2 separate regions of the Homo sapiens genome follow, and region 1 is linked to region 2. The links come from fine-mapping of genetic effects on gene expression. A gene starts in region 2. The other region holds a variant in brackets. All regions are shown on one strand. Distances are from middle to middle.

Region 1 (4,387 bases), 32 kb before region 2:
CTGAGTAGGCACTTTTTATGTAGCGCAGGCAAGAGTAGGAACTCTTCATGTAGAGCAAGCAGCACTCAGTAGGCACCCTTTATGTACAGAAGGCAGCCCACAGTAGGTACACTTTATGGAGCACAGGCAACACTCGAGCAGGCAGCACTCAATAGACCCTCTTTATGTAGATCAGGAAACACTCAGTAGGAAGTCACCATATAGAGCAGGTGGTATCAGTAGGCACTGTTTATGTAGAGCACTTGGCACTCAGTAGGCATGTGTTATGTAGACAGCAACTGGTGCTCAGTGGGCACTCTTCATATACAGGGGGTGGCACTCAATAGGCACTCACTATGTAGAGCAGGTGGCACACAGTAGGCACTCTATGAGGAATATCAGGAACTGAGTATACAGGGTTAATGTAGAGCACCTGGCACACAGTAGGCACACTTTATGGAAAGCACTTGGCACAGAGTAGACAGGATTTAGCACCTGGCACACAGTAGCTGCCCTTCATTTAGAGTATTGGCACACAGTAGAAGTACTTTCCATGCAGCCTTTGTGCAGAGTAGAGACTGGCACACAGCAGCTCAAGTGCTAGTTGCCACCCTTTCCCTTCACTCCTTTTTGGGGCTCCCTCCTCTTAGGAGCCCTCATTGTCCCCCGCTAAGGCCCTCATCGAACATCCCATTTCCCAGATGGGAAGACTGCACCCAGGAGGGGCAGTACTGACCAAAGTCAGAGCAAGGATGAGGCAGAATGAGGACTCCATTCATGGTTCCCTGGCTCTGCCCTTCCCCTGCCTGGACCCCATCCGTTCCCTCTCATCCTAACCCTCCACGTCCCCGCTCTGTCCTCCTATACTGAGTCCGGCCTCCAGATTTGCTTTTCCAGCTGAGCTCTTAATCTCCAGAATCTGACCCAGGTAATCCTCAGTGGGGCTGGATTCTTTGTTCCCGTTCCTAGCAGTCAGGTCTCCAACAGGGCCCTGGACTGCCTGGAGGCAAGACTTGAACTCCATCCAGCAGCAGGGGGATAGAGGCTTGTCTCTTCCAGGTTGCCTGATTCAGCATCCAGAAGTGGTACACGGTGTCCTACCGGCCCAGGGTTAGAGAGGAGCACAGGAGATGATCTGGAACAAGGCTTGGCCTGGCCTGGCTCGCTTGACACCTGAACTCTCAAGTTCATGCTTTTATCTGCCACACACTCAGTAGGTGCTCTTTAAGAGCAGGTGTCACACAGTGGAAACTCTATCTGACCCCTCTCGGCTTACTCTCCACCTTATGTGGGAGGTGCTGAGACCTGAGGATCCAGTGCCTGTGCTGTGTCACCCTGAGCTGGTTCCTCTGCATCCAGCTGGTCTCCCACACCCAGGTTTTGGCCAGCTGCCCAGACATGGGAGCGGCACCCAGGCTGTGGGGATTGGCTGGCCCAGCCCAGCCCAGCCTAGCCTCCCACAGCCTTCCCTACATCAGGGGCCAGGGGAAAAAACCTCCCAGAAGAAGGGGAGAGGAGGTTGTGTGGGACAAGGTGCTCCTGACAGAAGGTGCCAGGGTGGGGGTGGTGGGCCTGGGGCATCCTAGCCTGTGATGGAGATGGGCACTGGGCAAGGGATTGGGCGCACACATAGGGGAGCCCCAGCCTTCCCACATTCTCCATTGCTGCCCAAGGCCCAGGCAGCTCCTGGTTGCTGGCTTGGAGGATGAGTGGTTTTCTAACTGAAACCAAGCCCCTGGCAACGTCCTAATGATTCAGGCTGGGCCTTTCTGGACTTTAATCAGTTTCTCTGTCTTTCTCAATCTAAGTGCTTACCGGGTAACTGGAGGCCACTTGGTTGCTGGTTTTGGCTGGGCCTTTCTGGACTTTACCCCTCAGCCCCTGTTTATCCATCCCTGTTTACTCTTACTGTTCTATCTCCAGCACTGCCCGTCTCTGCCTCTCTCCACTGTCCCTGGAGCTCCCTGGGCCCTTCCCTGGGCCTCAGGACCTCACTCACCACCCCATCTGCCCTGCAGGATGCCACAGCTGAGCCTGTCCTCGCTGGGCCTTTGGCCAATGGCAGCATCCCCGTGGCTGCTCCTGCTGCTGGTTGGGGCCTCCTGGCTCCTGGCCCGCATCCTGGCCTGGACCTATACCTTCTATGACAACTGCTGCCGCCTCCGGTGTTTCCCGCAACCCCCGAAACGGAATTGGTTCTTGGGTCACCTGGGCCTGGTGAGTGTGGCAGCAGGACGGGTCTGGGGTCTCAGGGTGGATGGACTTCCTGAGGGGTAAGAATGAGGCTCAGGTGAGAGGGGGTGGGCTGGGGTCTGGGGTGGCAGAGAAGCAGGGGAGGCGTCTTACTCATTCCTCTGCTTACTCATTTCTGTGAGGTGCCAACCCAAGCCCTTCTCACCTCCCTGTTCTCCCACTCTTGGCCTGTGTTGAATCCTTTTCCTGCCTGTCTTTCCACATTAATGCACCTCTGCGGGGCTCTTGGGCAGGGGGTTGGGTGCACAGAAAGGTGAACCCCTGGCGTTCCCACATTCTCCATTGCTGGACTCGAGGCCTCCTGTACCCACTGTTCAGGGTCCTCTCCCTACCTGGCCTATTTCCTCTTATGAGGGTATAGGTGGGCCAGAGGAGAGGTGTGGGCTGTCTCTCACCTCCACCACATC[C/T]GGAGGCACCTTCCTCTTATCTTGTTCCTCCCCAGTAAGATGTCCCAATGGGGTCCTGTTGCCAAACCCACATAAAAGTTGGCCACTCACTTCCCCTTTCAGAAGCCTTCCCTGACCTTTCTCCTCCCCCAGACCTTGCCCTCTGACTTAGACCTGCTCTCCCCTTTGCGGAACGTGGTCTCAATCTGCTCATTGCAAATGGCAGGATTGATGGGTGTGTCCACAGGTGAAGTGGGAGGGTGCACAGGATGCACTAGCACAGAGCCTGGTGCAGAAGCTTCTCCCAGGTGGGAGCCACTGTCATGATGGACAGTTAGAGTCACCTCTGCTCCCCTAGTGACTGCTGAGAAGGGAAGGTCCCCTGTGTGCAGAACCTTCTCCATGGGAGGAACTGGAACCTGTGTGGCTGGTGGAGGAACCAGCCAGGGCATGAAGGGATGTGGGGACCAGCCTTAGGGACATGTCCTGAGTCCACACTGCTCCCCACAAACCTCCCCTGTGAGGACCTCCTCATATGCCCACCTCTGGGCTGAAATGACTCCCAGAACAAGGAAATTTTTCCTCTCAAGCTAAGTGGGCCTCTGTGAGTGGACAGTGTGTCTTTTCCTTCTGCCTTGGGATGCGCTCTTGGGACTTGGGGGTGGCCCCAAGAGAGATAGAGCAGGAGGAATGTAGACAGATAGATAGGTAATAGGATAGATGGATGGATGGATGCACAGATAGGGTGAATAGATGGCTGGCTGGCTGGATAAGTAGGTGGGTAGATAGACAGATAGATAGATAGATAACAGGATAGATGGATGGATGGACAGATGGATGCATGGATAAGATGGATGGATGGATGGATGGATGGATGGATGGATGGATAATACATACATAAAGTAGTAGATAAGATGGATACATTAGGTGGATAGATAGGTAGAGTGGATATGTAGGATGGATAGATTAGATGGATGGATAGATAGCTAGATGATTGATAGATAATAGGATAAATGGATGAGTGGATGAATGTACAGATAAGATGGATGGATGGATGGATGGATGGGCAGATAGATATATAGATAGAAAAGTTAGATAGGATGAATAGATTAGATAGATAAATGAATAGATAGATAGGTAGGTAGATAGATAATAGGCTAGATGGATGAATGGATGCACAGATAGGATAGATGAATGGATAGATAGACAGATATATAAGATAGAATGGATGGATTAGATAGATGGATAGATACATAGAAACATAGGTAGATAGATAGATTAGATAGATAGATAGATAGACAGATAGATACATACATACATACATATATAGATACATAGATAGGTAGATATGTAGAGATATATATAGGTAAATAGATAGATAGATAGATAGATAGATAGATAGATAGATAGATAGATAGATAGACAGACAGGCAGACAGACAGATAGATAGATAGAAGAGGGAGTTTATTTCGGGAATTGGCTCACAGGATTATAGAAGCTGAGATGCGTCATGGACTGCTGTCTGCAGGCTGGATAAACAGACACTGGTTGTGTAACTGAGTCCAAAGGCCTGAGACGGTGGAGTTCTGGTGTCCAAGGGCAGGAGAAGATGGATGTGCCAGCCCCACAACAGAGCAAATTAGCCTTTCCTCTGCATTTTTGTGCTACCTGGGCTCTCAACAGATTGAATGAGCTCTGCCCACACTGGGGAGGGTGATTCTTCCTTCCTCAGTTTACCAAATTGAATGCCAGTCTCTTCTGGAAACACC
Region 2 (4,387 bases):
CTCTCTGAGCCTCAGTTTGCTTTTGTGTTAAATGGACACCTTCTCTCCTCTGGATGCCATCACTCAGGTCTCTTCAACAATGCCCAGGGTTCTGGCCTAGGGAGCTGTTGGGAGGGTGGTGGGACAGCTTTGGGCACTGTGATGCAGGTGAGCATCTGATACAAGCAGGTGCACGTTATATAGAGCACCTGGCACATAGTAGGTGCACCTTATGTAGAGCACCTGGCACACAGTAGGTGTACTTTATGTGGCGTACCTAGCACATAGTAGGTACACTTTATGCGGCATACCTGGCACACAGTAGGTGCTCTTTATGTAGCATATCTGGCACACAATAAGGCACACTTTATATAGTGTACCTGGCACACAGTATGTGTGCTTTATGTCAAGTATGTTGCACCGAGTAGTTTTACTTTATGTAGGGGACCTAACACACGGGAGAAGCATTTTATGTGGAACATCTGGCACACAGTAGGTGTGCTTTATTTAGAGCACCTGGCACACAGCAAGCATGGTTTATATAAAGGGCCAGGGACTCAAGATACAGGATTTGTGAAGGGCTCCCAGCATACAGTAGACAGTATTTATGTGGAGCTCCTGGCACACAGTAGGTGCACTATATGTAGAATAGCCAGCACACAGTAGACAAGATTTATGTAGATTACTTGATGCAGAGTAGGTGCGCTTTCTGTGGGTCACCAGGTACGTAGTACACATGCTCAATGTGGAGCACCTGACACACAGTAGGTATGCTTTATATACAGCACATGGCACAGAGTAGGCACGCTTTATATGAAGTACTCTGCATAAAGTAAGCTTACATTATGTACAGCATGCTGCACACAGTAGGTGAGCTTTATGTGGCATACCTGGCACATAGTAGACAGAATTTATGTACAGTATCTGATACACAGTAAGTGCACTTTATATAGTGAAACTGGCACACAGTAGGTGCACACAGTAGTGCTTTCCGTACAGTCTTTCGCATGGAGTAGAGACAGGCACACAGCAGCTCAAGTGCTAGTTGTCATCCCCTTCCCTTCAGTCCCTCTTTTTGGAGCTCCCTTTTCTTAGGAGCCTTCCTCCGTCGCCCTCTAAGGCCTCATCTGACATCCCATTTCCCAGATGGGAAGCCTGAGCCCAGGATGGCCACACTGCCCACAGTCAGAGAAAGGACAGGGCAGAACAAGGACTCCACTCGGGATCCCCTTGCTCTGCCCTCCCCTGCCTGGACCCCGTCAGCTCAAGGCCCCTCTCAGCCTCATCCCCTGTGCCTCCGCTCTGTCCTCCTAAGCTGAGCCCAGCTTCTAGGTTTGCTCCTCCAGCTGGGCTCTTTATCCCCAGAATCTGACGAAGGTAATCCTCAGCGGGGTTGGGGCTGGATTCTTTCTTCCTGCTTCAAGCAGTCAGGCCTCAACTCAGGCCCTGGGCTGCCAGGAGGCAGGACTTGAACTCTTGCCAGGCTGTGAAGCCAGAGATGAGAGGCTTCTGTCTCTGAATCTCCTAAGTCTGCACCAAGATGTAGTGCCTGACATCCTCCCCGCCCATGTTTGGAGAGGAGCCCAGATGATCTGGGACAAGGGTTGGCCTGGCCCAGCTCAGCTGGCTGCCAACTGTCATGATAAGTATATGCTTTTATCTGAACACCCTTGTCTTGGAAGGGCAGGGTGGAGGTAAACTTGGGGTTCAGAGTCCCCTCTAACCACCCTCCAACTTCCCCTGCAAACTCCCAAGAAGGTACTGAGACCTGAGAATTCAGTGCTCGTGCTGGGGCACCCTGAGCTGCACCCAGTGGGCCCAACCCCAGGTTTTGGCTGGCTGCCCAGGCACGGAAGACACACCCAGGCTGTGGGGATTGGCTGCCTCAGCCCAGCCCAGCCCAGCCCCGCCTCCTACGGCCTTCCCTAGATCAGGGGCCAGGGCCAAAGACCTCCCAGCAGAAGAGGAGAAGAGGTTGTGTGGGACAAGCTGCTCCCGACAGAAGGTACCAGGCTGGGGGTGGCAGGGCTGGAAGGTCCTGGCCTGGGATGAAGAGGGGACTGCCTAAGGCTGGGGTGGCTCCAAGATGCTGGCATGGGAAACTGGGGGTTTCCTGGTAACTGGACTCCTAGCAAACTCCCAAGGATTCAGGTGGGGCCCTTCTGGACTCTAATCGGCCCATCTCTTTCCCTTTCTGTGTGGTTACCAGGTTACTGGAGGCCACTTAGTTGTTGGTTTTGGTTGGGACTTTCTGGACTTCAGATCTCAGCCCTCGTTTACTCACCCCTGAGCCCTCCCTGCCCTGCCCCCAGCAGTTCCTGACTTCGCCCCTATACACTGTCCCCGGAGCTCTTCCCTGGGCCTCAGGTCCTCACCCTGCATCCCCTCTGCCCTGCAGGATGTCGCTGCTGAGCCTGCCCTGGCTGGGCCTCAGACCGGTGGCAACGTCCCCATGGCTACTCCTGCTGCTGGTTGTGGGCTCCTGGCTACTCGCCCGCATCCTGGCTTGGACCTATGCCTTCTATAACAACTGCCGCCGGCTCCAGTGTTTCCCACAGCCCCCAAAACGGAACTGGTTTTGGGGTCACCTGGGCCTGGTGAGTGTGACAGCAAAATGTGTCTGGGGTCTCAGGGTGGATGGACTTCCAGAGGAGCAGGAATGGGGCTCAGTGAGCTAGGTATTGATGGTGGCTGGGGTCTGCGACCCCAGAGAAGCAAGAGAGATGGCTCACTCATTCCTCTGCTAACTCACTCATTCCTCTACCCACTCACTCCTCTACCCACTCACTCACTCCTCTACCCACTCACTCACTCCTCTACCCACTCACTCATTCCTCTACCCACTCACTCATTCCTCTACCCACTCACTCCTCTACCCACTCACTCACTCCTCTACCCACTCACTCACTCCTCTCCTCACTCACTCATTCCTCTCCTCACTCACTCATTCCTCTACCCACTCACTCACTCCTTTCCTCACTCACTCACTCCTCTCCTCACTCACTCATTCCTCTCCTCACTCACTCATTCCTCTCCTCACTCACTCATTCCTCTACCCACTCACTCACTCCTCTACCCACTCACTCAATCCTCTACCCACTCACTCACTCCTCTACCCACTCACACATTGCCCTCCTCACTCACTCATTCCTCTCCTCACTCACTCATTCCCCTCCTCACTCATTCCTCTCCTCACTCACTCATTCCTCTACCCACTCACTCATTCCTCTCCTCACTCACTCATTCCTCTACCCACTCACTCATTCCTCTCCTCACTCACTCATTCCTCTCCTCACTCGCGCATTCCTCTCATTCGCGCATTCCTCTCATTCACTCATTCCTCTCCTCACTCACTCATTCCTCTCCTCACTCTTATTCGTCTGCTCACTCACTCATTCCTCTGCTCACTCATTCCTCTCCTCATTCACTCCTTCCCCTCATCACTCACTCATTCCTCTGCCCACTCACTCATTCCTCTACCCATTCACTTATTCCTCTATCCACTCACTTTTTGCTCTCCCCACTCACTCATTCCTCTCCTCACTCACTCATTCCTCTCCTCATTCACTGATTCCTCTACCCACCGACTCATTCCTTTCCTCATTCATTCATTCCTCTGCAGTTCCATGCCAAACCTTTCTCACCTCCCTGTCCTCCCACCTCAGCCTGCTTGGATCCTTTTCCTGCCTGTCTTCCCTACCGTAGTGCCCCTCCCAGAGGCTCCTGTATGGTTGTGGGGTGCACAGAGCAGGGCTCTCCTGGCATTCCCACCTTCTCCACTGCTGGACTTGAAGCCTTCTGAGCCCCGATAGACAGGCTGCTCCCTGCATGGCCCATTTGCTTGTATCTGCCCATCTCTGGGCTGCTGCTTTCCCGCAGGAATTATCTCTGACTTCCTTCCCCACGGAGGGACACAGCTGGACCAGAAGAGAAGTGCAGGCAGTCTCCCACACCCTCTCCTTCCAGGGACAATGTGCTCTTCCCCAGTAAGATGTCCCAGTGAGCCCTGTAGCCCAACCTGGATATAATTTGGCCACTCCCTTCCCCTTTCAGAAGCCGTCCTTGGTACTCCCAAACCTTTCCCTCCGACTGGGACCGGCCCTCCCCTTTGGGGGATGTGGCCTCTGTCTGCTCACTTACAAAAGGCAGGATTGATCGGTGTGTCCACAGGTGCACAGGAGGCACTAGCACAGAACCTGGCATAAGTGAGGCTCTCCTAGGTGGGAGCTGCCATCCTGATGGACATTAGAGTCACCTCTGCTCCCCTGGAGGCTGCTGAGAATGGAGGGCCCTCAGGACGCAGGCCCTTTGTCTGTGGGAGGAACCAGTGCCCATGTGGACCAACCAGGACACAAAAGGATATGGCAACCAGCTCTAGGGATATGTCCTGAGGCCACACTGCTGCCCA

Which allele goes with the higher level. Alleles are on the strand shown, and positions count from the first base shown. SD is a standard deviation of normalised expression in the study named.
For the expression in whole blood of the gene that starts at base 1,936 in region 2, T is the low allele of the variant in region 1 and C is the other (large effect, 0.84 SD a copy in Lepik 2017).

What was found.
Region 1: its variant is fine-mapped to the expression of CYP4F12 in whole blood (TOPMed, PIP above 0.99).

The regions. Positions count from the first base shown.
Region 1 is chr19:15,639,418-15,643,804 of GRCh38, forward strand. CYP4F3 (cytochrome P450 family 4 subfamily F member 3) reads left to right here and starts at 1,480. Exons shown (of 13, transcript NM_000896.3): 1 at 1,480-1,528; 2 at 1,998-2,196. The coding sequence starts at 1,999. The variant C/T (reference allele first, on the strand shown) is at 2,640.
Region 2 is chr19:15,671,152-15,675,538 of GRCh38, forward strand. It overlaps CYP4F12 (cytochrome P450 family 4 subfamily F member 12), which reads left to right and starts at 1,936. Exons shown (of 13, transcript NM_023944.4): 1 at 1,936-1,984; 2 at 2,378-2,576. The coding sequence starts at 2,379.